Linked DNA regions of Homo sapiens: regions 2 and 3 are each linked to region 1. Evidence: fine-mapped expression QTL. A gene starts in region 1. Each other region holds a variant in brackets. All regions are shown on one strand. Distances are from middle to middle. Region 1 holds the start of COL28A1 (collagen type XXVIII alpha 1 chain). Region 2 overlaps MIOS (meiosis regulator for oocyte development). Region 3 overlaps MIOS (meiosis regulator for oocyte development).

The links. PIP is the estimated chance that this variant, and not a neighbour inherited with it, causes the effect. A credible set is the group of variants that fine-mapping cannot tell apart.
Region 2: its variant is the best candidate, but not a certain one, in a credible set for the expression of COL28A1 in hippocampus (GTEx, PIP 0.66).
Region 3: its variant is the best candidate, but not a certain one, in a credible set for the expression of COL28A1 in tibial artery (GTEx, PIP 0.89).

What each region holds. Positions count from the first base shown.
Region 1 is chr7:7,530,748-7,541,889 of GRCh38, reverse strand. It overlaps COL28A1 (collagen type XXVIII alpha 1 chain), which reads left to right and starts at 6,017. Exons shown (of 35, transcript NM_001037763.3): 1 at 6,017-6,140; 2 at 8,978-9,138; 3 at 9,986-10,542. The coding sequence starts at 9,015.
Region 2 is chr7:7,598,444-7,609,585 of GRCh38, reverse strand. It overlaps MIOS (meiosis regulator for oocyte development), which reads right to left. Exons shown (of 13, transcript NM_019005.4): 12 at 3,515-3,644; 13 at 654-2,590. The coding sequence ends at 2,494. Among named protein-coding and RNA genes, the nearest start is that of UMAD1, 37 kb to the left of the region's middle. The variant G/C (reference allele first, on the strand shown) is at 6,176.
Region 3 is chr7:7,567,995-7,579,136 of GRCh38, reverse strand. It overlaps MIOS (meiosis regulator for oocyte development), which reads right to left. Exons shown (of 13, transcript NM_019005.4): 3 at 11,014-11,111; 4 at 5,368-6,701; 5 at 4,941-5,039. The coding sequence starts at 6,661. Among named protein-coding and RNA genes, the nearest start is that of MIOS, 6.7 kb to the right of the region's middle. RefSeq lists a silencer at 932-1,132 and an enhancer at 9,826-9,885. The variant A/G (reference allele first, on the strand shown) is at 4,182.

The DNA of each region.
Region 1 (11,142 bases):
AGTGACTGCATCTATCTGTTTTCTATCCAGTGCCTCACATATAGTAGAAACTAAGTTGATGTTAGTTAAGTGAATGAGTTATGGATTTCATCAGATGTTACTTAGAGAGCTTCTTGATCCTATATAAGAGTAGTTTTATCACTCTTTCGTTCGTCTCCTCATTCTTCTGCCCAAAAAAGCTGTAGAAAGCAACTTTTATTCCACCCGTTCAGCATCACAGACGATTAAAATTTTTCATCTGTTAACAATAGTTGACAAACTCTCACACTATGTCTTTCTACAAAGTCCCACAAGGTGGTGCCCAAATATCTTTTTTCAAACAACACTTCCTGAAGACCCATGCAGAGTCCTGACTAAATTGTGTTAGTATTTGGCATTTCTGAATTTGGTCAATTAGAATAACAGAAAATATATAATTAAGTAAAAGTTACTCAACATTAAATAACATTATATATGTGATTTCAAAATCTATAGTTCTGGATATAAACAATGAATAATGATAATAGGTACTTTATTTCTGTGTAGAATTTAGTATTATTAAAAGGTTGTTCATATCCCCAAATAGGAAAAAAAAAATTCACCTCAAGTCCCCTTTTCTATAAATTTTGTCCATGAATAATTTACCCTTAGTATAGAATTTCTAAGGGCAGAAGGAGAAACAAACTGTTGTGCAGGAGGAACTATATAATTTAGATGCAATGAAAAAAACAGATGACCCTATTACCTTAACTGGGAACAATGTTGTGTAAACCAGCATTGTAACGGCTTAATATAACATGGGATAATAAGTTACTTAATGCTCTTAAAACACTTTTATTCCAGAAATTTAGAAGAGTTATTTTAAAACTTTTTTTGGATATTCTTATTAAATCTCAATACACTGACCAGAAAACCCAAGTAGGTATTGTGTTTCTACAACTTAATATTCATGCAAATGATGATATCTACCTATATTACTGGCTATGTTTTGATTAGGGATCAGTTATTGAAGTAGCTGTAACAATCCCCAGCTACTCAGATAAACCTGTCCAAACCTGGAGGAGAAAGTTTTTCAACCCAGGGTTCGAAGAGGTGGTGTTCATTGCCTTTAATGGCCCAGGCACTAAGATTTACACAGTGAGAGGTGAGACTCTTTAATGTGCTGGGACTTAGCCCATGATGATTTGTTCTGAGCCATTTGCCACTAAAGTTAAATCCTTATAAATATAAATTATTAGCCATACAGCTTCCTTTTTCTCCTGCTCAAGCACAAGCCTGGATAGCGCAAAGGCCTAAAAATTTTCTAGGGCATTTAGAGATAATGAAAGATGGCCACTTTGATGCACAAAGACCTAAATTTTAGTCCCTCACTGATTAATGATTTGACCTTTGGGTGGGTCTTAATATCTGTCCTCTATTTTATCAACTGTGAAATGGCAGAATTAAATAAAAGTGGTTTCTAAGTTTCCTTCCAGTTCAGAGATTTAACACTATTGTTTGTCCCCAATACAAGAAAAGTTTAAATACCAATCAGTGGTTATCAAATAATTCACCAAGATCTAGAATAACACTGTCTAATATCTGAAAGTAAAATGAACTAAGTGAAAAATAGAAATATTTTGCCATTTAAAGCAGAGTTTAGTCAAGGTATAAATAGATCTGATCTTTCTCTATTTGTAGGCTCTGCATGAAAAAGTTAAAACTGCTCTATCCATTGACCAAAGAAAATAATTAAAGAAAAATATTGAACATTCAAACCTATGATAGGACTAGATCAATCTACTTTCAGATATTTCTTAGAAAAAAAATTGTAAAACTTTCCAGATGGCACCTTGATTTATTTTTGGTCTAAAATAATTGCATTTAGTCAGGAATAAACAACATGGAAAGAAGAAATATTAATATTGAAAAAATATTTTAGAGAAAGAGATTAATAGTCATAAGATTGGTATAACGGGAATTTAGCCTGTCACTGTAGCCTATGAGGCACTGTGTGTTGCAAATGTGACACAATTATTCAAGCTGGGGATTGAATGACAAATAATGAAGCAAGAGATCTTAGGGAGTAAACGATATAAAAGATAATTGAGTCCGTGTTGCTGTACCCCGAAACTGCTCTAAACCATAAAGTTTATTAAATAATAGTAACAATTGAAAAATAGTAGAGGGAATGTGGAAGGATCAACTCAATCAGAATTTGGTGAGGGCATAGGAACTGAAGTCACGCTGTTCCACATTTAAGCAATGCCACATCCTGTATTTTATTACCAATGATAATTTTTATTTTCTTATTGTCTTTGAATGCTTTTAATCTTTCCCTTTGTTGACAAATAAGACCAATACAGTTTTGGTGTTTGCCATGGTTTGCATATTTGCCCCCTCCAAACCTCGTGTTGAAATTTCATCCCCACTGTTGGAAGTGGGGCCTGATGGGAAACGTTTGGGTCATGTGGGTGGATCCCTTATGAATGACTTAATGCCATCCTTGCGGTAATGAGTGTGTTCTCTCTGTATTAGTTCCTGGGGGAGCTGATTCTTTAAAAGAGTCTGACACCTCTCTCCCTGCTCTCTTGCTCCCTCTTACCATATGATCTGCACACGCTGGTCCCCTTTCACCTTCTGCCATGAGTAGAAGCAGTCAATGGCCCTCACCAGAAGCAGATGCTGGTGTCATGCTTCTTGCATAGACTGCAGAATTGTAAGCCAAATAAACCTCTTTTCTTTATAGATTACTCAGCCTTAGGTATTCCTTTATAGCAACACAAAATGGACTAAGACAGTGTTCCTCTAATTACTGATGAAGGAGTTGAGAGAATGCCTAGGTCATATTCTGGGTCCAAGGATAATGAATCCCAGAAATTTCAGAGCTTTGGGGCAGGTGTTAGAAATTCTACTATATCAAGCTTTTCTACTGACAAAAAGAAGAAAGAGAAAGAAAGAAAGAAAAAGAAAAAAAGAAAGAAAGAAAGGAAAGGATCTTCAAGAACAAATTTCTTCAAATCAGGTACGAAGGTCATTAATTTCTTCCTTGTTAGTTGGTAATGTTTTTTTTTTTCTACTCTAGATCAGCAGTGTGGGAGGTGGCTAAAATAGGGAGAAGCTTGTGAAACTATACTATGCCTTAATCTTGGTCAAAATATATAACTTTGATTTGTTACCAGCCTTTTTTTGTGTGTATTTCTATGACTTCATGCAGATACAATTCTCTGAAATATGTAAGTCCTAGCAGACTTGTCTCTTTTTAAATGATTCTAGGACCCCAAAATATCATCACCACTGAAATTAAGATGTTGGCACTGGTACTAGAATCAATAAACACAATGCAGATGCTACTATGGTAGCATATTAAAAGAATTTGAAAAAGTTGAAAAAAGATTTTCATCTAGCAGAGCTTTGGAGAAGAGCAATTTATTGTATCACAGACCTCAAGTGACTGATAAACACTAAAAATTACTTCTAATAATCATTTATTTCACAAATATGACTGCTTACTCTGGGCTATTTATAGTAGTAACAATGAAAATAGTGTGCTATATTTCTTCCATAAAGACTTTTACTACAAAATAACTGTCAGAAGGGCATGGGCTCCACGTTGCCTTTTTCTAGTCATTATGGTTATCCATGCTCTCTTATTTGTTCTGGTGTAAGTCCAATAGCATACTAATTCAAGACCATCTGTTGGGATTAAGATTGTGGTGCATTGTTTCTCTGGGTGCAAAACTAATTGTCTTTTATAGATTGATGAAACTGAAGATTTTATTTTGCATAATCTTCCCAATTAATTTAGTGCTGATTTTCACGCTTGAGAATGAGAGGTGGCAAATCTTTGGTTTGAGTTACCCTATTTAATGTTGGAGAATGAAAGGGAATGGATGACTAAGTTGGACTCCAACCTCCCACCAACTTTAATCAAAACAGCTCCAAGGCAGGAGGGCTTTAGTCCATTTCCCCCATCTAGGAATCACCTGTTTGCTTCTTAGTGGCATTATTATTCTGCATGTTTTTAACCTGCCTCAGCAAAAAGAGAGTTGACCTGAAAAGATGCTACTTCCTTGTCTCTTGATTCTCATCTTACAAAAGTAAAAAGTGTGACTAACACCCATAGGCTATCAGGTAAATACATGGTTGTTCCCTAGGAAATTCCGTTGTTATTTCTGCATTATACCCACCGTTTCTTCTTTCTGTTACCAAAGCCTCACAAAACTTCCTCAGTTCCTCGAAACCTGTTTTGTGAGGAGGAGACAGTGAAAACACAGACGTTCGCATAGATACTTAATGATGCAGTAGTTGTTATAAGTGAGGCTCACAGGTCTTACCAGCCTGAGTTAAAAGTTCATTTTGCCATTCTCTGGTTTTAGTATGACAGCGGACAAGTTACTGAACCTCTCTCTGCCTCCATCTTGGAAAAATTCGAATTCTTACAACATCTACTAAGTACAAGGGGTCCTGGAATAATATTTTGTTCAATGTCATTTTGTTATAACATTGATGAGAAAAAAAATTCAATTCCTGGGCCAGGCTCACTGTGTGGAGTTGACATGTTTTCCCCATGTCTGTGTGGGTTTTCTCCAGGTCCTGGAGTTTCCTCCCACATCCCAAAGCTTTGCCCATTAGATGCATTGGTGTGTCTACATGGTGCCTGTCTGAGAGAGTGGGTGGGTGTATGAGTGCCCTTTGACAGTACTGCATCCTGTCCAGGGCTGGTTCCTGCCTTGTATCCTCAGCTGCTGGGACAGGATCTGGTCAACCGTGACCCTGAACTGGAATATGCAGGTAAGCAGTTATCTTGTTTTTATCAATCTTTCATAAATGTATATATAGCTTAGATTTATTTCAATGTTTATTATTAGAGGTGTTTTGAGTATTTAGAGGTTTAGTGATGTTTTTGTGACTAGGAATATGCCATAAGAGCTTAACTCTTATTTATATCAATTAGCTCTTGGGAAAATTGTCTTCATTATCAATTGTTTCACTTTATGTCACAGTTTCCAGAACCTACAGAGGACATTAAGTGAGGACTTACTGTATATAGGTGGTTGTGCTTGTGAAGGATTAAATGAGGTAATGTGTGTGAAGCACTCAGGACAGTGCCTAGCACCTGGTAAGTGTCCATGAATTGGAGGCTATTATTGCTGTAATAAGGAAATTCATACACATTAAAATGGCTAAGAAAGTTCATTTTAAATAACCGTAACATGCACATTTGTATTGCTTTCTCGGATGATCTTGCTATTCTCTATTTCAGAGGAAGTCCGTGGAGAAGCCTGCCTGTTAGCTGTCTAGGGGTCAGGTGGCTTCTTGGCAGTATATATTACATGATAAACATTGACTTAATATGGACCATAACCACAAGGTAGAAAATAGGGAAACAGGGAGTGGAAAAACCACAGTGATCCTTTCCTAGAGAGAGACCAAAATATTAACCGCTGTAAACCTCTCATGTTACAGTTCGAACACATCTTAATAAATGATTAAATCTACTCTCTCATTTCATAAGTGGGGAACTGAAGCCCCCATAAAAGTTAGGGGCAGAACTATGACTATACTCAGACCACTCTTTCCCTGTATATTATATATACCTTTTATTATAAAAAATTTCAAAAATCACAGAAATACAAAGACTAGAACAATGCACACCTATGTACTCATCATCCAGCTTTAATAACAATCAAACTGTTACCTCTCTTAAAAAAACAGCTTTGATTCTGAGTCTGGTGTCATTTATACTCCTTCACAGAGATGTTCAGAACCAGTATCTTAGAGCACATCCCCCAGGCAAAGAAATGTAGCAATAAAAAGAGAAGGACATAGCATGAGAAAAAAAGGCAGGCTGTCAACCAATGCCTAAAATGTAGAAAGTTCTCTCAAGTTGTTTTTACAATAGTCTGGAAAACACAGTCTCATTCTGAAAGGACACTGTTCCTTTAAATTGCTTACTGATCCCACCCAGATCTTGCACCCTGGCCAAATGCCTGACCACTCTTGCTTTGACTTAGTCGAATAAACATGAACAAAAGACTGCAAAAGATCCTAAAGCAAAGACACTTTTATTTCCCACAGAACAGAACAATATCAAATAGCTAACTTCACCCCCAACCACAGTCCTTGCTGTTGGCATTTACTCAACTAGTCTTTAATTCCTGTTTGACAAACTTTATAAGGTAAGACATAACAGATTTATTTTAGTCACTTGAAATCAGATAGGACCATCAAGGAACTGTGGAAGACTAAATGACTTACTTACATAATTATTAGGTGAGAAAGCTTGTCAATAGTTTGTATTCTCTGCAATTACTTCAAATCAATTATTAGAAAAATATTAACATTGTTAAAATGTAGAAATTTAAAACTTAAAATTATTTTGAAATGGATTTTTAATTTACAGTCTTCTAAATTGTTTTACAACGATGTTAATATATTTTAGGACATCTTTTTCTTAATTTGGAACAGGGTTTACAATTCAGAATTAGTTATAGAATACTTTACAACTTGGCTAATTTGTCAATTTGAATAAAGTCTTTATTCAATCATTTTCTATTTGTGTAGAAACTGAGATGCAAACATTGTAACTAAAGTTGGTGAACTCTGATATAAGATCATTTTATTTTTGAAAAATTATAAAAAATAAAGTATCTTGGATTTATTTACTGATCCTGATATTTACCCCAAATAAATTTTAGGCCAAAAGTAAAACTACGGTATTTGATTAATAATTATGATTGTTTCTGCATTTATAAAATGTAACCTATAGTAAACACAGAGGTTCACATTTCTTTCACTTAACTAATGGCACTGTTTCCTCTGAAACCTATTTTGCTTGTACGTGACATCAGAAAGAGAGAAAGGTGAGAATTATTAAAAACAGAGGCAAAATAAAACATGGTAAAAAGTGATTAGAAATGAGTGGGCTCTCAAGATGCCAAATTAATAAACGAGAAAGATATTTCAGGGAAGCAGTAGAACTAACAAGCTAGAGAAACAAATCTAGAGAGGTATGAAAATGTCCTCTGGCTACAATAGGGAAACAGAAAGAAATAACAAGACTTTGGTTTGGGAGAGCTAGATTAACAATGTCAGAGCAAATAAGAACAAAATATGAGATACTGGGATTATTGTCAATGGAAAAGTTATGTTTGTGAATATCATATATACAGGGATCAGGTACAAATTCATGATTATATGCCAAGAAAACAGTAAGAGCAGGTGCTTAGTTTTGGGAAAAGATAAATCTTTATTTAAAGCCAGTATTTCTAAAACCTTACATGAAGGGTTTTGAAGAGTTGCTTGATTATGTTGCTTATAAAATCTTGCTCAGTTCTCAATGGAATTCAGTTCTCAGCCTCTTATTTCCAGAACTTCTGAGATGTTCCTTATGGTATGAACTCAACCAAAGAGAAAAGTCATATGTAATACCATGGCCATGGTGTTATTCCCTTTCCCCTTTGAAAATGCAATAACAACTGTGTTTTTCACATAGCCTTATCTTTACACTAACCTTCAGACTTAAAGTTGTACATCATTTATTTTTTTCCTTGGTTAGCAAAGGGACAACTTGAGGAGAGATGGCCTTTGTGTGTTCTGTTTCCTTAGCACATTTCTTGGTTTTGTTTTGTTTTTAATACCCAGCTGTCTTTACATTTTAGTATACCTTGTCTGAGGATCAGTTGGCATTTGGCCAATTGCTACACAAGATGTTTGGTCATACCTATCCAAAGTTCTTTTAATACACTTCCAGCTGGATGATGCTATGTGAGGAGCAGACTGTGGCATGAAGCCATCCATTGGTCCTCTCCTAACCCAACAGTTTTGTTTCCCTTTGGGGTTTATCCATCTGGCATGTATGAAAAAAGTCAGTCTCCATCTCACTCCTCACTGCCTTTGCATATATTTCCACTCTCTACTCAGAGTCTGGAAAAATCGTGCTCATGATTTCCCAGATTCTTATCCCCTAAAGGCAAGGTGCCAAAGAAGGAAAATGTGATTCCTTTTCCAGAACTCCTGAAGTCAATAAAGTTTCAGCAGGCAAGCATTTTTAAGCCATACTAAGTATTGATTCGAAATAAGCTTTCTCGTTCCCATTCTCTTGGGTATACTGAGGCAGCAACACATGAGTCTTCTCCTCCCAGGGAAATCTGTCAGTTTAAGAGTCAGTTGGTGTGTAGCTAGGCATATTGACTGATGAAGATTGAGGATTTTAATACAGAATTAGATTTTTCGTTGTTAATCCACCCAGAAAAATAGTTTCACGGGGCTATTCAGAGGGGGTGCTTCTTGGCTTTAAGTCCCGTTTCTGTCCATTAGTTCTTTTAGCCATCACTGGAAGAAGAGTGTTGCTTTTAAGCAAATCTATTATTTTTGCTCTCATACTCTTTTGATTCATTGCATATGCAGCTTTGAACCCCTGGTGGAGACAAAGTTTCCAAAGCTAGGGTAGAAAAGAGAGATGGGGTTCTATGGAAACAGAAGGGTCGTTTAATTTTTACCTTGACCTCTGAACTCACTGAAGTTATGTGTGTAGTATTAAGCCTGAAAGGGTGGTGGTTGTCTACAGTTCTACAAAATACTAGATTTGTCAGGAATCAGTTATAATGAAAGTGAATGAAATGACCATATAGCAATCTGAATTCCCCCTGAAGAATTTGGAAATGTCAAAGCAGACCCTGTGATTGAACCACAGTAATCATATAGAGCGGGATTGAAATGTTTTTAAATGGCTCTCCCAACTCTATGCTCCTCAAAATACAATGCGGAATTAAGAATACTTAAATATAGTTCTTTGAATATATAGAAATATTCACTAATAAATGTTTGGTCATGGTGCCATGATTTATTTGGATTGAAATCTTTCAAAATCTCAATGTGAATATTTTTCTAGAAATATGAATGAAAACCTCTTTTTTCCAGTCACATGCCAGTTTTCAACCCTGCTGGCTTGAAATTTAAAAATAACAAACACCATATTTTATTAAAGTATTTGTAACTGACTTTTCTATTAAAGGTGCTACAAGACAGATGATTTTTCACCATCTACCATAATGTGGAACAGATATTTTGTCTTCTATCTCCTGCTTTTGTCAGCGTTTACGAGTCAAACAGTATCCGGACAAAGAAAGAAAGGACCAAAATCAAATTTGCTTGCAAGGAAAAGTGATGTCCAGGGTAAAAAAAAAAAAATTGTTTGTTTTTAAGTTTAGCCTGTTAAAAATACTTATGTGAATTTTTCTAAATAGCATTTGATATAAATAGCAAGCCATATACATGTATACATGTGATAGTCTACTTTGATAAAATTATATGATGATAATATACCTTACATACTTATAGCACATCAGAGTCTTTAATAAGAGCACTTGTGCACTTATTATCTCATTTGAGCCTCACAGTAACCTTGTAAAATAGGCAGGACGGAGATTGCCACTCATAGTGTAGATTAAAAAAATTGAGGTCTTAACAGGTCGAGTGGCATACTCAAGGCCATAGGCAAATTAACCACTGAGACACAGAGCTGGGATTTAAACTTAAGTTGTGTTTAAGTTAGGTTTCTTCTCCACTTACTCTTGGTATAGGGGGTATAGTCATTTTCTCCCTTGATTTCAAGAAAGTTTAAAAAAAAATAGGGACTCACCAATATGACACAACCTGAGAATTAGAGTATCATTTACTTCTAGACAACTATGCTCAGTGTTAGTTGGATTTTTAAAATGTGATGCATCTTGACTTCCCATTTCCTCCCACTTTCAGCAGGTTTAACATTGAAAAGATGCTCAGAATAAAAGATATCTTATTTATTTTTAATTTGCATGATTTTACAAGGAGAAAATAATTCATAAACTTAGACATTTAGTTTTTTACAATTGAAGCCTTCTGTCCAACGTGTCTCTCTTTCTCTCCTCACGCTGCTCTCAACACCAAACAATATACAACACACCACTTCAGGGCTTTCCGTATGCAAATTTGTTTCATGATAGGAATAATTATTTTGCCTAACCTGTTTATTCTGTTTCAGGCTCCATTTGTTTCATAGATATTGTCTTCATCGTGGACAGCTCTGAAAGTTCTAAAATTGCCCTCTTTGATAAACAGAAAGATTTTGTGGATAGCTTGAGTGACAAGATTTTCCAATTGACTCCTGGTCGCTCCTTGGAATATGACATCAAACTGGCAGCCCTTCAGTTTAGCAGCTCTGTCCAAATTGATCCACCTTTTTCTTCCTGGAAGGACCTGCAGACATTTAAGCAGAAGGTCAAGTCTATGAATTTAATAGGGCAAGGTACCTTCTCTTATTATGCCATTTCCAATGCCACTAGGCTACTTAAGAGAGAAGGGCGTAAGGATGGTGTGAAAGTGGTTTTGCTGATGACTGATGGCATCGACCATCCAAAGAATCCAGATGTTCAAAGTATTTCTGAAGATGCCAGAATTTCAGGAATATCATTTATCACCATTGCACTTTCTACGGTAGTCAATGAAGCCAAACTTCGTTTGATTTCTGGGGATTCATCCAGTGAACCCACTTTACTGTTGAGTGATCCAACCCTTGTAGATAAAATTCAAGATCGTCTGGTAGGTACCTAATGGGTTGATTATACAGTTATCATCATAATATTGACATATTTGTTGTAAATCCCATAAGAAGAGATACTGGGTCAAAAAGATGGAGAAAATGAGAGTTAACACTGAAAACAGAAAGAAGAATCTTTCTGAAGTGTCACTCCACTTTCTTGGCAGTTTACTCCAGACAATCTGGAAAAGTTCCAGGCTAATTCCCTGGAATTGCATTTTTAACTTTATTGCTAGCTGATGCTGAGGATTTTGGAAGGGGTTATTTTCCAATCATATACCTTAAGCTCCTGTTTATACAGCCTACAATCATGAACATTGCTGACTTATATTCAGGTTGTGCTCAACTTGAGGTGTTAGGCTATATTTGTACCAAGTTGGTCTTTTCCCATTCCACATCTGTACAGGTATTTTTGACATAATCTTGACATATTCTCTCTTACTCTTCTAAAGGACTGAGTATTTTTGACTCTGTCTCACCTATTGTTACATTATGCTACTCAAAGTTCATAGACTTCCAATTTTTAAAATTACCTCCTTCTTTCTTAGATGTTCTCAAGCCCATCCAATTTAAAATCATCTGCAACCTGCAGTCAAGCAACA
Region 2 (11,142 bases), 68 kb before region 1:
TGGCACTTCATGTTTATTGCATCACCTAATACTCCCACACTCTGAGGTAGGTATTTCTGTATCTTTCTTTTAACATATGAAGAAACTGAAGCTCAAAAAGGTCAAGTCACTTACCGAAGATCCCGAGGCTAGGATTATAATTTATGTTTCAAAGACCATGCTTTAACTACTTGCAGTCAAATGAATGACTGAAATTGAGTCATCTAATTAAATGAAGAACTACATTCTTTTAAATACTTACTATGTGAAGCATTGACAATGGGAAGCTACTTTTAAAATATACCATTTTAAAGGATAATAACTATTCTGGAAAGTGGGTTGAATTGAAAAACAGAGCCTAAAAGGAATGTTACTTCTAATATTAAGTATGAAGTCTGTCATCAAAAAAAGCACCAATATTACTTCACGTGGATTATTTGTAAAGGAATCATAATTTCTTGATTAGATACAATGACTTCAACCCAGATTTATTCAATCTTTTAAAAATAATAAAAACACTTTTAATAAACACATCTATTGATCATGTTTAGGTAAAGTATCTTGTTGAGTTTATAAACCCAAATACCAGTGACTTAGTGATAAAAATGAGAAAATAATTTGATTGTCCATGCACACTGAAATGCAAAACAGACACCAGAGACATAAACTGCATGTTTGGGCTTCACAGAAAACATTTAAGAGGTTGACACATACATACAATCTTAAAAATGTCACCCTCATATATTAGGATTACAAATAAGCATATTACATAATAGACTTTACATTCATGTTTTATACTGTATTTCCAAAACTTGTAACTATTTGAGATAATTTTACATTTTACTTTAGCTAATGAGAATGAAAATGCATATGAGTCTGACATTACTTAAAGCTGACTTTCATATTTAAGACAGTAAGTTTGAAAGGAACACTTCAAATGAAATATTAAAGGTAAAGGGTATATGTTAATAAAATGAAATCAATTAAGATTTACTCAAATGAAGGCTGGAAAAAGTACCCTTAATAGCAATCTTTAAAAAAAAATTGCAATTACCATGTCTTTCATTTGAAAAGACTGTCATGCAGGTGAGACATTTAGAGTAAATATGTACTACTTCCAATGTTTTCCTAGAAAAGGGTTTTATGTATCAGACACTCAAGGTAAAAAATAAATTTAATCTACTTTTAATATTTAGGTTACACCTCAAACTAATCTGACAAATCTTAGTTTTTATAAGGCAAAACTGCTAATACGAAAGCTCTTAAAATTCTTGTTTTATTTCTCCAAAATCTATAAAATAAGATTTACTCTTTATGAACACAGCTTCAACTACAAAATTCCTAGTTCAGTCCCTCTGCATATGGCAGATGACAGAGAAGCATCTTGTAAATTCTTTGTATTTCTCTTACAACTATCTAGCTATGAAATGAGAAAAAAAAATGTTTTAAATAAAGTACCTGACTTAGCCCCAGTAACACTTACATTTAAAAACTTACATCTAAAATGGTCTCTGAAGTGACCCCATTTCCCCAACACTTCCTAGTCTACCTTGGAAAGAACAAGGTATGGTATTCCAAATCAGGACGGAATTTGACAGCACAGAAACACTGACATAGATTATACTAAATGGCTAGTTACATATAATCTTGCATAGACTTTGTATGCAGTAAAATGTTCTCAGGTGATGAGGATAAGATGACAAATTAATATGGAGAAAAACCTTTGAAGACAAATCAGGACATTGGAAGGCAAAAGGTAGAAAGTGAAAATTTTGTATGTTCACCTGAAATGGTACATGTTTTTCTCTACTGAAGAGAAAAAGTTGTAAGATAGATTCTTCATCTTGGCTTTTCTAGGAAGACGATAATGTTATGCCAAAAGATTGCTTATCTTAAAATCAAAGGAGGGAAAAGGCTCCTTTAAAAAATACATATTTATACATACACACATAAATATACACACACACATAGACACATATATAACAGACAGTAATAAAAAATATTCTCCAGTGTGGGATAGGGGCTCTGCAATTCTAAAAGTAAAAATCTGTAATTTTAAATTAATCTGAAAGAAATCTAAGCACAGCTGAACTTAAAACTATTGTCTGAATCACAGAATTAGTCATTTTATTTTAAAAGTGCACATATTTTATTGAAAGATATCCAGTTTCAGCTTTGAAGATATAGGCTCAAAGTCTGTTCTTGGCTCTTCCAGAAATTCTGCTTCTAGAGTGTTCATAATTTCAACCAAAACTTAGAAAGTTTTTCTAAATCAGACTTTTCAACCTGCTGAACAGAACTCATGTCTATACTTCGATGTTTATTTTGGCAGCATTTGTCTCTGTGAAGCATATCAAAATCACTCAAACATCAAAACTGCTGATCTGATAGAATGATTTATTTTCCCATTACAGGTAAGTCATGAATGGCTTGTTCTGAGGTATGTTTCTGAGCTATGAAGGACACCTACTAGAAAGCTCCACACTTGAAGGGTTCTCTTAAGGTGGTAACATTTTATGGCTGGACAGTCTCTGCAGGTACCAGATTCCCTGTTGTATCCAACTGCATACATTTACACGTGCATGCCGACACAGGGCACTCTGCATGGTCCCTAAAAAAATAGGTCAAATAACAGTTAAAAATCCAAATTAGACAGACATACATTTATTTATTTATTTATTTTTTAAGAGACAGGGTCTCCCTATATTTCCCAGGCTGTACGCACACTTTTGGGCTCAAGTGATCCTCCTGCCTCAGCCTCCTGAGTAGCTGGGACTACAGGTGTGCACCACTGTGCCCACCTGTTTACTTATATCTATCTATAATGCAACTTTTCAAAATGGCATTTGGAAAAATATAGAAACTAAAACCCAGAGAAAAAAAGCATCAAAAGCATCAAATTATAAACTACTGCCAAGCTGAAGTTTAGGGAGAAGTTAAGAAACACATACCTTTTACTTTCTACATATATGGCAAGATATTTCATTTATAGTTGTGAAGGTGACAGGGATGTGCTCAGAGTTTAAATTAGCTAGTAAGACAAACTGGGTATAAATGCTGTATCAACCAGGAGCACAGGGCCACTGGCACCATTCAAAATGAAATTCAAATATGTCTTGACAGTCTTAATTGCGTGACTACATAAAAAGCTTACTTAGAAGAGAACTGAGGCAGAGGTATGATATGCTCTTTTAACATTTCATTAGTAATTCAATTGCATGGTAAATTACAGAATATTCAGTGTAAAAACTGTAAACATATCCTCTCCCCGAATAAAGTTAAATAATGTTATTCAAACATTTAACTCATACAAAACATTTAAATTAGTTCTTACATAAGTATTACCTTTATAGTTTAAGGTTACATAGGATATCTAATCACGACATGTTCACACCACCTTTGTTAACATGAGTGACAGTAAAAAATAAAATTCATACTTTGGCTAAATGCTAATAGATAAACCCAAACTATTTAGAAGCAATCTGTGTTATCCCCCATAACTCCAAGCCTATCAAAGAAGAAATGTGCTGATTACCTGAACCAACTAAGCATATGTCCAGCATGTCCACCGTGCCTGCAATTATGACACCATGTAAACCAGTTGTTAAATTGGGCTAATTTTTTGTCCTTGCTCAAGTCCACTTTTTCATCTGATTTGGTTCCTCCTATGACAAAATAAAATGATCTTCATTAACTATATCATAATATTTTATTTAAAGTTACTTTCAAAAAGCATTTCTAAAACTGTGTTCCAAATATGAATCACACATCATATTGAAATAGCAATTTTGATGGTAGGTTCTAGTTTAGATGAAGCGAAACTGAATGACAGAAGCTCCCCTACATTTTTAATAGCCAATATAAAAATGGAAAAAAAAATCCAAACCCACTAAGAAACAATCTAAATTTAAAACTTTGGAGAGACCAAATCAGTAGTTTAAAATCTTTCCACAAGGAAAATACCAGGCCCAGTTTACAAGTGAATTTTACTTAACATTCAAGGAACAGGTAGGGCTGGGTGTGATGGCTCATGCCTGTAATCCCAGCACTTTGGGAGGCTGAGGCGGGCAGACCACTTGAGGCTAGGAGTTCACGACCAGTCTGGCCAACATGGTGAAACTCCGTCTCTGTTAAAAATACAAAAATTGGCCGGGGGTGGTGACACATGCCTGTAGTCCCACCTACTTGGGAGGCTGAGGCACAAGAATTGCTTAAATCTGGGGATTGGAGGCTGCAGGGAGCCGAGATTGCACTGCTGCACTCCAGGCTGGGTGATGGAGCAAGACTTTGTCTCAAAAAAAAAAAAAAATCTATCAAGGGACAGGTAATTCTCATCTGTACAAGCCCTTTCAAAGAAGAGAAAAAGCAGAAAGTTTCCCAATGCACTTCATGAGACTTGTGTAACTTAAACAATTGCTTAATTAGACTTAATATTTTTACTTAATTGCTATCTATAAAGACATTATGCATCGATAACTATGTTAAAAATTTTGCTTGGACCATTGCAGGTCACGCTTTCATGACCAAAAGGATAATCTTGCAGTCGGGAATAGTTTTAAAAAATATCCGTTTTTGCTAATGATATGAGGTGAAAGGATGTGTAAGTAATTCAATGATTAAAGATGTAAACACACTAGAATTACTCCTGAAAGGGTCACCAACAATTAATAATGAGAGGGCAAAAAGGAAAGGGGGAAGAGATAAATAAAATATAGATCTGATATGTACACTACTTTACACCTTTGTGTAAAGCTCTCATTAGTGCTTGTCACTTTGTTTTTGTAACTTCTAACATAAACAGATAACAGACTGAATCAGAACAAGGCATATCCTTATATTTTTCTGACGAAACTGGAAGTATTAAGGTCTATCTCACTGCCAAGTATAAAGGCTTAAGATCAAATGACTTCAAATTTTAAAAGATTTATAGTGAATTATGAAGACAAGTGCCACAGAACACTTTAGGCGAAACTAGAGTTTCACTTATGCATTAACTCATAATGTAAGAAGAAAATGAAGGAAACCAGTAGATAATCTAACTTTTAAAAAATGTGTCATTGTCCAGAAGTTAAATTCTGTAAGGGCAGCGATTTTTGTCTTCTTTACTGTAACATTTCTAGCACTTGGAACAATAGGTACCAAATAAACATTTGTTGAATAAATAATATTTATAATGTTTATAATGATGTTAGAACTGTTTCAACAGATTTCTAATCTTCAAAGCACAATTGAGTATAAAAATATCAACTCTCAGTTAAATAAGCTTATAGAAATTCCAGCTATTTGAATCACAAAGCATGATGGATGGATGCAATCTCTGATTGCAGGCAAAGCACCAGGGAGGTTTAGATACTCGAGCCACTAGCCAGCACTTTATTTTTTTTTAAATTTTATTATTATTAAAGTTTTAGGGTACATGTGCACAACGTGCAGGTTTGTTATATATGTATACATGTGCCATGTTGGTGTGCTCCACCCATTAACTCGTCATTTAGCATTAGGTATATCTCCTAATGCTATCCCTCCCCCTTCCCCGCACCCCACAACAGTCCCCGATGTGTAATGTTCCCCTTACTGTGTCCATGTGTTCTCAAATTGTTCAATTCCCGCCTGTCAGTGAGAACATGCGGTGTTTGGATTTTTGTCCTTGCGATAGTTTGCTGAGAATGATGGTTTCCAGCTTCATCCATGTCCCTACAAAGGACATGAACTCATCATTTTTTATGGCTGCATAGTATTCCATGGTGTATATGTGCCACATTTTCTTAATCCAGTCTATCATTGTTGGATATCTGGCTTGGTTCCAAGTCTTTGCTATTGTGAATAGTGCTGCAATAAACATACGTGTGCATGTGTCTTTATAGCAGCATGATTTATAATCCTTTGGGTATATACCCAGTAATAGAATGGCTGGGTCAAATGGTATTTCTAGTTCTAGATCCCTGAGGAATCGCCACACTGACTTCCACAATGGTTGAACTAGTTTACAGTCCCACCAACAGTGTAAAAGTGTTCCTATTTCTTCACATCCTCTCCAACACCTGTTGTTTCCTGACTTTTTAATGATCGCCATTCTAACTGGTGTGAGATGGTATCTCATTGTGGTTTTGATTTGCATTTCTCTGATGGCCAGTGATGATGAACATTTTTTCACGTGTTTTTTGGCTGCATAAATGTCTTCTTTTGAGAAGTGTCT[G/C]TTCATATCCTTTGCCCAGTTTTTGATGGGGTTGTTTTTTTCTTGTAAATTTGTTTCAGTTCATTGTAGCTTCTGGATATTAGCCCTTTGTCAGATGAGTAGGTTGCAAAAATTTTCTCCCATTTTGTAGGTTGCCTGTTCACTCTGATGGTAGTTTCTTTTGCTGTGCAGAAGCTCTTTAGTTTAATTAGATCCCATTTGTCAATTTTGGCTTTTGTTGCCATTGCTTTTGGTGTTTTAGACATGAAGTCCTTGCCCATGCCTATGTCCTGAATGGTATTGCCTTTCTTCTAGGGTTTTTACGGTTTTAGGTCTAACGTTTAAGTCTTTAATCCATCTTGAATTAATTTTTGTATAAGGTGTAAGGAAGGGATCCAGTTTCAGCTTTCTACATATGGCTAGCCAGTTTTCCCAGCACCATTTATTAAATAGGGAATCCTTTCCCCATTGCTTGTTTTTCTCAGGTTTGTCAAAGATCAGATGGTTGTAGATAGGTGGCATTATTTCTGAGGGCTCTGTTCCGTTCCATTGGTCTATATCTCTGTTTTGGTACCAGTACCATGCTGTTTTGGTTACTGTAGCCTTGTAGTATAGTTTGAAGTCAGGTAGTGTGATGCCTCCGGCTTTGTTCTTTTGGCTTGGGATTGACTTGGCAATGCGGGCTCTTTTTTGGTTCCATATGAACTTTAGTTTTTTTCAATTCTGTGAAGAAAGTCATTGGTAGCTTGATGGGGATGGCACTGAATCTATAAATTACCTTGGGCAGTATGGCCATTTTCATGATATTGATTCTTCCCACCCATGAGCATGGAATGTTCTTCCATTTGTTTGTATCCTCTTTTATTTCCTTGAGCAGTAGTTTGTAGTTCTCCTTGAAGAGGTCCTTCACATCCCTTGTAAGTTGGATTCCTAGGTATTTTATTCTCTTTGAAGCAATTGTGAATGGGAGTTCACTCATGATTTGGCTCTCTGTTTGTCTGTTATTGGTGTATAAGAATGCTTGTGATTTCTGCACATTGATTTTGTATCCTGAGACTTTGCTGAAGTTGCTTATCAGCTTAAGGAGATTTTGGGCTGAGACAATGGGGATTTCTAGGTATACAATCATGTCATCTGCAAACAGGGACAATTTGACTTCCTCTTTTCCTAAATGAATGCCCTTTATTTCCTTCTCCTGTCTGATTGCCCTGGCCAGAACTTCCAACACTATGTTGAATAGGAGTGGTGAGAGAGGGCATCCCTGTCTTGTGCCAGTTTTCAAAGGGAATGCTTCCAGTTTTTTGTCCATTCAGTATGATATTGGCTGTGGGTGTGTCATAGATAGCTCTTATTATTTCGTGATACATCCCATCAATACCTAATTTATTGAGAGTTTTTAGCATGAAGGGTTGTTGAATTTTGTCAAAGGCCTTTTCTGCATCTATTGAGATAATCATGTGGTTTTTGTCTTTGGTTCTGTTTATGTGCTGGATTACATTTATTGATTTTCGTATGTTGAACCAGCCTTGCATCCCAGGGATGAAGCCCACTTGATCATGGTGGATAAGCTTTTTGATGTGTTGCTGGATTTGGTTTGCCAGTATTTTATTGAGGATTTTTGCATCAATGTTCATCAAGGATATTGGCCTAAAATTCTCTTTTTTTGTTGTGTCTCTGCCAGTCTTTGGTATCAGGATGATGCTGGCCTCATAAAATGAGTTGGGGAGGATTCCCTCTTTTTCTATTGATTGGAATAGTTTCAGAAGGAATGGTACCAGCTCCTCCTTGTACCTCTGGTAGAGTTCGGCTGTGAATCCATCTGGTCCTGGACTTTTTTTGGTTGGTAAGCTATTAAGGATTGCCTCAATTTCAGATCCTGTTATTGGTCTATTCAGAGATTCAACTTCTTCCTGGTTTAGTCTTGGGAGGGTGTATGTGTCCAGGAATTTATCCATTTCTTCTAGATTTTCTAGTTTATTTGCATAGAGGTGTTTATGGTATTCTCTGATGGTAGTTTGTATTTCTGTGGGATCGGTGGTGATATCCCCTTTGTCATTTTTTATTGCGTCTATTTGATTTTTCTCTCTTTTCTTCTTTATTAGTCTTGCTAGCAGTCTATCAATTTTGTTGATCTTTTCAAAAAAAAAACCAGCTCCTGGATTCATTGATTTTTTGAAGGGTCTTTTGTGTCTCTATTTCCTTCAGTTCTGCTCTGATCTTAGTTATTTCTTGCCTTTTGCTAGCTTTTCAATGTGTTTGCTCTTGCTTCTCTAGTTCTTTCAATTGTGATGTTAGGGTGTCAATTTTAGATCTTTCCTGCTTACTCTCGTGGGCATTTAGTGCTATAAATTTCCCTCTAAACACTGCTTTGAATGTGTCCCAGAGATTCTGGTATGTTGTGTCTTTGTTCTCGTTGGTTTCAAAGAACATCTTTATTTCTGCCTTCATTTCGTTATGTACCCAGTAGTCATTCAGGAGCACGTTGTTCAGTTTCCATGTAGTTGAGCGGTTTGGAGTGAATGTCTTAATCCTGAGTTCTAGTTTGATTGCACTGTGGTCTGAGAGACAGTTTGTTATAATTTCTGTTCTTTTACATTTGCTGAGGAGTGCTTTACTTCCAACTATGTGGTCAATTTTGGAAAAGGTGTGGTGTGGTGCTGAAAAGAATGTATATGCTGTTGATTTGGGGTGGAGAGTTCTGTAGATGTCTATTAGGTCCGCTTGGTGCAGAGCGGAGTTCAATTCCTGGATATCCTTGTTCACTTTCTGCCTCGTTGATCTGTCTAATGTTGACAGTGGGGTGTTAAAGTCTCCCATTATTATTGTGTGGGAGTCTAAGTCTCTTTGTAGGTCACTAAGGACTTGCTTTATGAATCTGGGTGCTCCTGTATTGGGTGCATATATATTTAGGATAGTTAGTTCTTCGTGTTGAACTGATCCCTTTACCATTATGTAATGGCCTTGTCTCTTTTGATCTTTGTTGGTTTAAACTCTGTTTTATCTGAGATCAGGATTGCAACGCCTGCCTTTTTTTGTTTTCCATTTGCTTGGTAGATCTTCCTCCATCCCTTTATTTTGAGCCTATGTGTGTCTCTGCACGTGAGACGGGTTTCCTGAATACAGCACACTGATGGGTCTTGACTCTTTATCCAATTATCCAGCACTTGATTTCTATTAGATCCTGTTTTACTTTGGAAATGGACTTTTCTGATTTCACATGCCAAAAAAAAATAATTTGCTTCTTTTTCTTTTTTTTAAACTTTTACTTTAGTTTCAGGGGTACATGTGCAGGTTTGTTATACAGGTAAATTGCGTGTCATGGGGGTTTTGGTGTACGGATTATTTCATCATCCAGGTAATAAACATAGTACCCGACAGGTAGTTTTTCGATCCTCCTCCCACCTAGCACCCTCCAGTAAGCCCTGGTGTCTGTTATTCCTTCTTTATGACCATATGTTCTCAATGTTTAGCTCCTACTTATAACATGTGGTATTTGGTTTTCTGTTCCTGTGTTAGTTTGCTTAGGATAATGGCCTCCAGCTCTATCCATGCTGCTGCAAAAGACATGGCTGCATAGTATTCTATGCTGTGTATGTACCACATTTCTTTATCCAGTCCACCACTGATGGGCATTGAAGTTGATTTTATGTCTTTGCTATTATAAAGAGTGATTATTCTCTAACTTAGCTCAGCAATGCCTTTAAAGATCATATTCAGGCTCTCCCTAATTTTCCTACTGTTTCTTATCAGTTCACTTCCTAGGTCCTTTCACAACAATACACTTGCTCTTCCCAAACACCCCCTGTACTTATCATAATACTTACCAATCTCTTCACCCTAGTTCATGTTTTTTACACTTGGTCTGCAACCTGGACGGCTTCCCTGCAATCTTCATATATTAAATCTACCAAACTTTAAAGGACTGGCTTAAATGGTAACTTCCTCCTAAAGCTTTCCAGATATCCTTCAGATAGAAGTAATATTTCCCACTTTCAAAATTCCTAATTCTTTCCTTATATAATAGTCCTAATTCATGTTGGGGGTTTAGATGTGTTTCAGAATCCAGGATGTTTGGGATTTTAGAAAAAAGTAGCAAATATGTACACCTTGAGGGAAGTCTAAAGCACCCTGTAATCAAACTCGTTAGTATTTCTGTAGTGAAAGATGAATATTCACTAATAAATAAGAGAAATAAATATCTTAATAGCCTCACATCAATTCTGAACAGGTTTTGTGGTCAAATGAGATTACCGTAATTTTATTTTTAAAAGGCATTGGATTTTCAGATCTTTTTAGAGACTTTGAAATGACAGATAAGGCATTGTAGACCAGTATTTATTTTCTAGAAAATATCACTTATTTTATATTCGTTAACTATGCTTATTGCACACCAAGAGCTCCAAGAGGTTCTTTGATTTATTCATCTCAGCACATCAGCATTATATTAATGTATCAAGTAAAATCAGTGTTCAAATATGTATTATATATATAAAGAAATTATTTCTGTAGCAAATATGGAAAAAAATTCTATAACAAATATGGAAAAATGTTAATATTTGATAAACCTGAGTGCTATTCGTTATATTAGTCATCATAACAAAGAATTTCAAATGTTTTAAGATTTTTCTTCAAATTCTAGAAAATTATTTTCTTTTCTTACCTATTTCAAAAATAGAAAAGATTGAAAAACTGGTATTCAGCAAAAAGGAAGAGTGCCCAGGTGTAAGAATGCAAATAATCCTTATAGCTTCCTGAGGCTTATGGTCCAAAAGATGTGTTACATTTAATTATTTCTATATATCTCAGTTCATACACATATATGTCTTATTTATGCTATATTTTACCTCGAGCTCTCATTGTTGTAGATATTCCAAATTGTTATTTTCTGTTTATTAGGACCAGAGTTAACATAAAACAGTGATCAGTATGTAATGTATAAAATAAAAATCCTTGATTAAAATTTAAATCAAAACTAAAATGTACATTTA
Region 3 (11,142 bases), 37 kb before region 1:
GTACCACTAAAGTAACAAAATTTTATCTCCTAAATTTGAGACTGTCCTATACATAAATAACAGAAAACGTTTTACTGATGGCTGCGAGGAAAACAAGTTTATTTAAACATTAAAAATCAGGGTTTAGGCCAGGCACGATGGCTCATGCCTGTAATCCCAGCACTTTGGGAGCCCGAGGCAGGCAGATCACTTGAGGTTAGGAGTTTGAGACCAGCCTGGCCAATGTGGCAAAACCCTGTCTCTACAAAAAATACAAAAATTAGCCAGGTGTAATGGCATGCGCCTGTAATCCCAGCTACTCAGGAGGCTGAGGCACGAAAATCACTTGAACCCAGGAGGTGGAAGTTGCAGTGAGCCAAGATTGTGTCACTGCACTCCAGCCTGGGTGACAGAGAGAGAGACTCTGTCTCCAAAAAAAAAAAAATTAGGATTTAAACATTTCTTTCAAATCAGCAATCAGATACTATGCTCTTTGTAGCTACTAATTTGTTTCATTTTAATATCTATGTAGTAACTAAGCAATACAATTATCCAGTTTATAAGAAATCCTAGCTATTTTGCCCCTTGAAGTCATTTTGCATAGACAAATTCTCAGTTCTCTAGATTAGATTTTACCTTTTTGTTTGTTTGTTTTAAAGAAAAAGAGAGACAGGGTCTCTATGTAACCCAGACTGGTTTCAAACTCCCGGGCCCAAGCGATCCTCCTATCTCAACCTCCTGAGTAGCCGGAACTGTAGAGTTTACTCTTTAAGCATGAAAAATATTATTTTCATGATGGATTAAAGCAGGCCAATATTTTTTATACAACTTTCTGCCATCTTAAAAGGAAGGAATTATACCTACTAATAACACTGTGAACTTGCTATACAGGTCTGTAGAAGAGATTCCCTCAGAGCATGCATTCTTCTCATCCTGGTTGATCTAAGCACTTAGCCCATTCAATAAACTAGCCTCTCAGTTCCTTTGCTTCCTTATCTCCAGTGGTCTACACCTCCAAGACTTTAGCTACTCCTTTCACAGCCACACTTGAAACTGTCCTCCTCCAAAAGACCTACTTTCTAACCACAACCACATAGCCTTCCAAAAATCTCACTTCCTTATATTTTTCACAACCTCGCAGTGTCTTCACCACTATTATTTTTACTTATCAGTCTTATCCTGTCTTCATTTTCATCTCTATCCAAATAAGATCCCAAGGGTCAAGTGAACCACTCTCTTGCCAATATATTTAATTATCTTGCCCTACTGTCCTTTATTCTGCCTTCTGGTAAAATAATGTTACCCAGTAATCCTCCCATATTTCTCAAGACAGCTCTCTCTCCTCTTCTCCATATCCTCTTCCTACGACCTCCCTGCTCCTTCTCAACAGCAGCCATAAAATGGGAAATCCCTCAGCCTCTGGTTATTGAAACTCAAACATCCTGCATACAGCATCCTTTCCCCCTTTCCTCTGGCAAATGTGGAGGTGTGCACCCTTGTATCTAAAGCTAAAGAAACCTGTGCTCTGGATCCCATTCCCTCCCATTTCTAGGAACTTCGCTTCACTCCCTTCTCTCTGCATCTTTAACCTCTATGGGCTTCCTTCAATTAGCATTTAAACATGCTTAAATTAATCCCATGTTGAAAACAGAAATAAAGCAACACAAAGCTCCCGGCTCCAGATTTGTCTCCTCCTACTGCGTATCTTTTTGTCCTCCTTTATATAGTCAAATTCCTTCAAAAAAAGTATTTATAATTGATTACTTCATTTCCTCAACCCACTCTGAATTTCTAATATAACTGCAATTTGCTATCCATACCGCCAGTGAAAGACCTTCTCCTAGTCCTAAATTCAGTGAGTCCTTTTTAGTTCTTATTTGGCTGGATCTGAAGCATGGAGCACCGGACAACTGACCTCTCTTCCACATGAATGTATACTAGGTTGGTACAAAAGTGATTGCGGTTTTTGTCATATAGATCTTTCTCCTACATCTCTCGACAATCTGCCTCAGTCTCCTTTAAGCCATCTCTTTCTTACTCCAAACAATTCCATTTACTCTATCAAATATCATTTATTTCTGACATACATTATATTCCTCCCCTGGGCTTTGAACTGATATCCTATTGCCCAATGGACGTCTCTACCTAAGCATCTTGATTTCAACTTGCTCCAAAATAAACCCAAATACTCTTCCTGTGTTATTCCTAATTAACATACTTAAAATTAACTAGTTTCCCAAACTAAATATATGTGTGCTACCTTTGACTTTTCCATCTTCTCCACCCCTTTATCTAATTAATCATTAAATTTTCTCCTATTCTCTAATGTATCCACATTTCTCTAGCTCCTCTGCTACTAACCTTGGTAAGGATAGCATCACGTCTTGCCTCCTTGCAGCAGGCTTCTATCTGATATCCCTACTATCAATCTTGATCCTTTTAAAACACAAATCTGTCACAAATCCATCTGTTTCCCCGTCTTACAAGATGAATCTCCCTAAATTCTTAACATGATTTCTAAGTCTTTCTTGAGTTAGCCCACTGCTTACCTTTCTAGCCTCCATTCTTTCCTCACTTCCTCTCTCATGCTCTGTTTCAGCCATAATAATGTGCTATGCTCTCTACCCTCTGGGTCCACTGCACATGCTGCTCCCTGTCTGGACCTTGTCTTTAACTGTACCTCCTCTGAGAAACCTCTAATCCCTGCAACCAGATTAGGAGTCCTTCCTGTAATTAACTGTCTGTTCTTCCCTATGTTATAACTGCCAGCTTACTTGTCTATATTCTAAACTAGAATATAAACTCCTCAAGAGCAGGGATGACATTGATCCTGCTCAATCTCCATGAGGGAAGAGATTTATGTATCTTCTTGAGAGTTATGTCTCTAGTTCCTAGGATAACTCCTGGCATATAGCATGCATGTAGGTAATAAATACTTGCTGAATGAATGAGCTTACTTCATATTGTAGTTGTAAAAATTAAAGTAACATGGGAAAAGCAACTAATTCATAGCAAGCACTTATATATATACTATTTGTTACCAAAATTAAAATTTAGCTGTATGCTCTAATAAACTTGTGTATTAGGTTACTGTGGACAAGATGGCTCAATGTGTTGACTTACCATGTGTTGATTATTAGAGATACAATTAGAGGAAAAGGTATGGCCAAATAAAACAGAAGACTGAAATCTAAGAGTGGCATATTTGACAGTATTTCTCTACTTTTCACCTTTGGGTAGTAGAAACAAAAATATCTATACCAAACAAAAAAAAAAAAGCTGAAAACCTAGCAATGAGAGAATGATGAATGAGGAAATCTTTCCAACAGTAGTGTTTCTTTAGTCTGGGTAGAGACTATTTTGACACAGGGGTGGGATACTCAGTTTGTCTCTAGTGCACCAGAAACATAAACATATTACATTTTCCCCTTTTGCTTTTCCTCAGATGCTGGCTTTTCCTTAAAATATATCAAAATACAAAAAACACAATAACCAACCTCTAAATAATTGAGTGCAGTGTGGCCTGATCTACTATATAGCTAAAACACTATAAATTCTATAAACTTGGTGTTTAATTCTTTGTAGCAATAGGCAATGGCTCTAAAATCTTGAACCATGGTACCAGGTTCATTTGTGGGAGTAAAACAGTATGTGTGCCCTTTTACCTATGTTAATAAAAACAGCAGCTTCTAACTAAACTTATTCATTTTACTATTTATAATAAAGGTTACTTTTTTTGGTGGAGGGCTAATACAAAAACAATAAAATCAAACTGATCAGTAAGTAGTCTACTGCATCTTTCAGTAAAGTGAACCAAAGTAATTTGAAAGACGTTAAAAAAACACTATAATGTAACAGTTTAATTAAAACACTTAACCTACTCTAAAATATTTTATTATTTTGTATTTTGTTTGTATGGTACTGATACAAGCTCCGTAAAAAATCAAATTGGATTTACTACTTCTATTACTGCTCTTTGACTAAATAATGTTAACTACTTTTCTAACAGCTTGACTTGGGCCCAAATTTGACTTACCAAAAGTTAGAGAACGAATCCTAGATCACAGAGATACAGGGTGAGCATCCCAAATCTGAAAACTGAAGTCCAAAAGGCTTCAAAATCTGAAACTTTCTAAGTGCTGAGATGATATTCAAAGGAAATGCTCATCGGAGCATTTTGGATTTCAGAATAGGGATGGTCA[A/G]TCTCTAAGTATATAACGCAAATATTTCAAAATCTGAAAGTATCTGAAACATTTTTGGTCCCAAGCCATTTTGGATAAGGTATACTCAACCTGCAATTCTAATATAACCCATTATTCAATTCCAGTAAAAGAATAGGAACAACTGTTTAAAGCAGTCAGAAAAAAAAAAAAGTTTGGTTTTTGTCACTTTTATTCTTTAATAGTTTACCATACCAATTTTCAATCCTACATTAACTCACACGTTAATTAATTCATTCACTAATTAACCAAGGACTATATCAGGTATAATTCCTCCACGTTAGGCCATATTTCATATCATACTCCTTGCTGTTAGATGGCTCAATGAAAGTATTTGAGGAGCAAAATAAAAAGGGATCTCCTTCAATTAGAGATCTTTTTAGTTTTTAAGAAGCAAAATGTTGCGATAAAACCTGAACTAACAATCAGTAATCTGTAAATTGTCTAGTGTAAAACCTCTCAAAGTGGGTTTTCAAAAAAATAACATTGAATAAACGTGTGGATAGATTTAAGAAGATCAACATCACTTCAGAGAATTAAGACTCCCTGCAAAAAGGGTTTTGGATATAAATACAAGTATGCATTTAACTCAACAATACAATGAAATATCCAATCAGAAAACAAAAAAAATTATGTACATGATCCTGAAATAACTAGATAATTTCTGCCAAATGACAGGGGGCAAAATAAAAGTACAAAAGTTATAAACATATTGGAGAAAATGAAATAGAATTTTCTTACCCAACGATGACTTTACAATTGATTTAATTCCTGCATAAACCAATGATCCTTTGTTGCCTGGAGATTTCTGATCCATATCTTCTGTGTATTGCTTCATAAGTATTTAAATGCATAGGAAATACTAGTGATGCATGACAATATATTTCAAAGCTAAATTTATTTTGATTTGGAGCCAATTCATAATAAGTATCAGTGTAAATAAGGTGGTTCGACTCTATTGCAGAGATACACTTTTCTTCCTCCTACACAATCTACAAAGCAGTATTTCAAGTTCGAAAGTTTAGAACAATTTTACTTTATAATGTTAGTATTATGTAACTTGTATTTGTATATAAAACATTGAGCATATTTACAGACTGACCTTTTGGCAAACTTCAAGAACATTTCTACCTGATTCACCTCACAAAATTCACAATGAAAAGGATATAGTGCAGAGTATACCAGAGTGACTTGAGCTGTGGATCTTCATTTCCAGCTAAAATGTGGTTCCTCCACACCTGCTCTGTATCAAGTCCATACCTTGATAAAGCCCGAAGACGCATCTTCGTTGCTATATCTTTTTCTAAAGAATTATCATTTTCTTCTTCCGTACATTCATATAAATGACGACCACAAGCCCACATTAAAGATGTAATTGGGCTCCAGGCAAGAGATATCCTTTCAAAAACAGTGAAGTCTGACATTGTTCGGTTGGGAGTTACAACTATCATTCGATTTTGACTTGTTGGATGCCACGCAAAGGAAGCAATGTAATTGTCACAAGGTTGCACACTTCTTTCAATTATTGTGGGTTCAGTTTCATCCCCAATGGGAGTGGGTGTATGCTGCATATCATACAATCTAATAATATTACTATCCCTTGTTAAAGTGGCAAGTAGACCAGTCCTAGTGGGACACCATGCTACTTTTGTTAAGGGTTTTGGTTGCTCAGTCAATGTCAAAACTGGCTTCTCAAATTTTCTAAGATCCCATATTGCAACCTGACCTTCATAGAAGGAAGCAACACGATCGTGGAAATATGGGTCTACCGTCACACCCTGAACAGCTTTTGTATTTACGAACATCTTTTGGCTTGTATTCCGAAGATCAAATATAGCTAGGTTACGATGCATACCAGCAAGGAGAAGTTTCTGGTCTCGTGGAAGCCAACAAAGAGACAGACAAGCATCATTCTGTCCTAACTCATAAAGTGGTTTTGTTACTAATAATGTTGTTTCAGTTTCACCTGCTGAAAGTTTCACTTTTTCCATGGGAACTATATCAGGAGTATATTTGCTGCAGATATCCCATATTAGCACTGAAAAGTCAGCTCTGTGCTTATCTAAACCAGCAGCTAGCCAGTTACTATCCAGTGGATTCCAGGCAAGGGTATTACATTGTCGTGCATGTTTTGGAACAAACTCTTTTCCTATCAAATCTTTGAACTTTGAGTTATGATCTTGACCAAGGCTTGTAAGTACAACTCGACCATTTGCTTGTCCAACTGCCAGCAGACATTCAGGATCATAATTAAGATACCAGGCAACACATTTCATATAGGGTGTATCTGAATTTATTGACAGTAATGTAGCTGCAGAGTCTTCAGATAAACGTAAAGATCCAGCTTTGAGTTCTGAATTCACAGTAGATTCCACATGATAAAGACTTAGTTCTGAGTCACACACAACAAATCTATCAACATGGTGTGGTGCCCATAAAATATCAGGTTTGGTACCGCTCATGTTTACTGATGTGATCAAAGGGTCCACTCAGGTCCATTCACTGAAAATGTTTAAAAATAAAAAGTTTTAAAATATCAGCAAAATATAATTCTTACGTTGAATAAACTATTCAGAAAGTCAGAAAATTCTCTATTCAAGAACCCTCTTTTTCAATATATTTGTATTTCTTCTCTCTATCTGCTATGAATTCAAGAAAATATTTATTGAAAAAAAAGGAGAAAGAACAACCACTTCCAATAAAATGAGCTGGTAGGAATCTGAGAATCCCATCCTGGCTATATTTCCCATGATCAATTATCTTAATTGCACTGTTACTAGTACCTTCAGCTTAACTTCAGAGTTATAACAACTTCAGTGTGGTAAGCAAATTAATAAGTATTATCCCTTTGAAGGGGGGAAAACTTATGAATCATATTCCTAAGCAATAGTTTAAAGCAGCACTGCCCAATAAAACTTTCTGCAATGACAGAAATGTTTCATGTTCATGCTGTCCAATATGGTAGCCACTAGCCACATGTAGCTACTGAGCACTAGAAATGTGACTAATTCAAATTTTAAACCTTAATTTTAACAAATTTTAATATAAATAACCATATGTGGTCATCGTAATGAACAATGGAGATTTAAAGTACAATGTCATACTAAGACAGCGGTTTCTTCAACTTTAGTAATAAGCATCAGCCTTGTATGGCAGAATAAACACTGGAATGTACTGAACGAACCTGAGTTCTAGTCCTAGCTCTGCCGTATATTAGTTATATGCCTCAGAAAAGTCATTGTGTGTGGGGAACCCCTTTGTTTTCTCATCTACACAATGTAGGAGCTGGTTTAGATTAGTATTTCCCAAACTTCAGTCATGTAACACCTATGCCATTAATATTTTTCTTTAAACTGACTCATTTTTAAAATCTGAAAATTGACTTTAATCTCTTCATAAGGTCCATGAATCATGGTATGCTATGCTAAATATATTTTTAACCTACACTGAAATATATAACTATTAAAAAGGCTTGATTGTGTTTTATCTACAAAGCATCCTGTTTATGACCAGTGGTACACACATACCACACTCTGAGAAAGTGGATTAAGTGATCATTAGAGGCTCTTTCAGTTTTCGCTTCTACAAACTTTGAATAAGTGTTAAAGTAGAATTTTTGAAAAAAATAAATATTCTAGCAGTAGAAGCACACGAACTAAATATAGCTATAGTTAAAAATGGTGTTTCAATAATTAAGGTTGCCTACAAAAATTTAAATGCCTGTTTCTAACAGAGGCTGGCAAAAGGTAATAGATTCAAAAAGAATGAACATACTTAAAATCTTCATTGCAATTGGCATCTGTACAACTCTGTTGTCAGTTCTCATAAGGTAAAGCTATGGTTCACTTACCTCTCTATCCTTAGTGCCATATATAGAGCCTGGCATAGACTCCTAATAAGGATACACTAAATAGTTCAACTCAAACATAATTGCTTTTCTTTTTGATCTTGCAAAAGTTTCAGTTGGGAATTACCAGTCTAAAACTTCATAGACTCATATAATTTAGACCAGGGGTCCCCAACTCCCAGGGCCGCAGACCAGTTCTGCTCCCTGGCCTGTTAGGAACCAGGCCACACAGCAGGAGGTGAGCAGCAGGCAAGGGAGCTAAGCGTCATCTGTTATTTACAGCCACTCATCTCACACACTGCTGCCTGAGCTCCGCCTCCTGTCAGATCAATAGCAGCATTAGTTTCTCACAGGAGTGCAAACCCTATTGTGAACTGTGCAAGAGAGGGATCTAGGTTGTGCATTCCTTGTGAGAATCTAATGCCTGATGATCTGTCACTGTCTCCTATCACTCCCATATGGGACCATCTAGTTGCAGGAAAACAAGCTCAGGGCTCCCACTGATTCTACATTACGGTGAGTTGTATAATTATTTCATTGTATAGTACAATGTAAATAGAAATAAAGTGCACAATAAATGTAATGCGCTTGAATCATCCTGAAACCACACCCCCACCCCTCATCCGTGAGAAAATTGTCTTCCATGAAACTGGTCCCTGGTGCCAAAAAGGTTGGGGACCACTGATTTAGGAATTCTTATACTGGTTTTATTTCCTTCTTTAGCATTTCTCAAGCCCAAGATCAATCATTTCAATATTCTTACTAGCACCCTCAATGTCTTCATTTCCTTGCCACTTTGGGTTTGCCTTTCCCCAGTCCTAGATCAACCCAATTATTTATCATCTTGTCTCCTCACTCAGGCTTCCAAGTGCTACCACACAGAGGATAGTCTCAAGCCTCTGAAAACTGATTTCAGTAAATTAAGGTATACAACATATCTGGTGTGTGGTGCTGGAGGCTTTTCTTTTATTCATCTTTCCCCTGGTCCTTCAGAAATTTTGCTTTATAGAATACCAGAGTAAAAATCTTTCTACAACACAACCTTGACCAGGCTATCCTTCCTTGCTTAAAACCCTCTAATGGTCTTCAGCTGCTCTTAGTATAACCTACAAAACCCTAAATGCTTTTGGTCTCTGCCTACTGCACCGGCCTTGTGGCACAACATTCTTGCTGTCCTTTTACACTGTCCTTTCCACTTCCTAGAGTATATACCCTCCTCCCTCATCACCATACCTTTGCAAATGATGTTTCCTCTGGTTAGAGCACAGTTCCCTGTCTTCTGGGCCAAGTTAATACCTGCTCAACCTTGACGTCAACCACCCTCCATCCCCTCCCTAGTCGAGGTCTGGTTACTCAGACATACACTGTCATTAAACAGTATTCTTTCCCTTTAATCATCCATCTCTGTCTCTTCTACTGGATTATACACTCCATGAGAGCAGGTGAAGTATTTTTGGTGTTCCATTGTACCTCTAGTCCCCAGTACAGTGCTAGGCACTTAGTAGGAAGTTAATAAACATTTGTTAAATAAATGCATGTGCTGAATGATCCCTCTGACACTTCTCACAACTGCTATCTCCAAGTTTTACCTATTTCCTCATGCTTCCACTTCTACGCTCCCTAGGAGAGGCTGGCTCCGGCCAAGATTTAAATGTCTGCTATTATACTTTCATTTATTCTGTGACTATTGATTGGGCACCTTCTATGTTCTAGGCATGGTTATGAAGCTGGGAACACAGCAGCAAACATGAGCCGATGAAGTCTCTGGTCTAAAAAAAACCTGCACTGTAGTGATAAAATTAAGTCCAACCTTAAAAAGAGTTTCAAAATTTAAGAATGAGGAGGAAGAGGGGCACCTCACGTAACAGGAAGCAGCTACGACAGCAAAGAGGAACAGATACTGCCAAATAAGGGTTCATACTCATACCCCCACAAAGGAAATCTCTTAATTGGAGACATCATGAGATCTGGGCCATTTTCCCATCTCATTGAAAAATCAATGTTTAAATAAACACACTTTTTATCTAGGCTTTCATTCCACAACCCGACTCTTTATACCAATGGTCTATGGTAAGCAATCTTGATGCCACAAAGAAAAATCCATCTTACAAAACATAAAATACGAGTTTTAGCATAAAATTTAAAACTTTGATTTACATGACTCTCAACGGAGAATATCAGCATTTCTTCCCATGTTATGCACCTAAAATACTTCTATTGCCATCCACAAAATCTGATGACAGTAATTCATACAGAATCAAAACTTGAGAGAAAAAGACTAGCTAAATCTTCTAATTTCACAAAGGAGTAAAGTGAAGACCAGATGTTTGGGTGGTTATCCAAGGTCTCTCAACTTCCGTCCTAGATTACTGCAAAGAAAAGGATCAGCTACACGATATGCAGGACGTGGTGCAAAATAACAATGCAGGGCCCCTCATTTAAAAATTATTTACAATGTCCAGACAGTGACAGCAGACTGGCCATTAAACTAAGTGCTAGCCATTCTAAATGCTGGGCTCTGTGCTACTGCACAGGTTGCACATCATAAGAGTAGCCCTGTATAGAGAGGTGCATCTATGTCCACCCTTTTAAGAAGTGTATTTTTTTTCACCATGTAATATACAGGATAAACAGTTCCTTGCTCATGAACATACATCACCAAGAATCTGGTGTAAAGAAAACAATCTAGAGTCAGAAATCCTACAGCCACTCCCCAGCTCAGATCCTAACAAATCTTGTAATACTCCAAAACCATAAAACCGAGATAAAATCTATCCCATTTCCATCTCACAAAGCTGTGACAATCAACTGAAATGAGCTCTTCACATCACACAGATGTTAGTATTACTACCATTCCCTTAATCAGCCCTGAAAGTTAATGTTTTTTCCAAATTTTGGAGACATTAAAAAATTAGGTGTAGAAGGGGTGCGGTCTGCAATAATTACAGCTTGTATTTATATCCTCACCTTTCAAGTTTAACAAGTCTCACTTCCCATCAGTGATTTCTCAGCAAAGGAAAGCCATGCTGATTCTGTGTTCATTCACCAGAATATTTGCAACAGCACTGTCCAAAAGAAATACAGTGTGAGCCATAT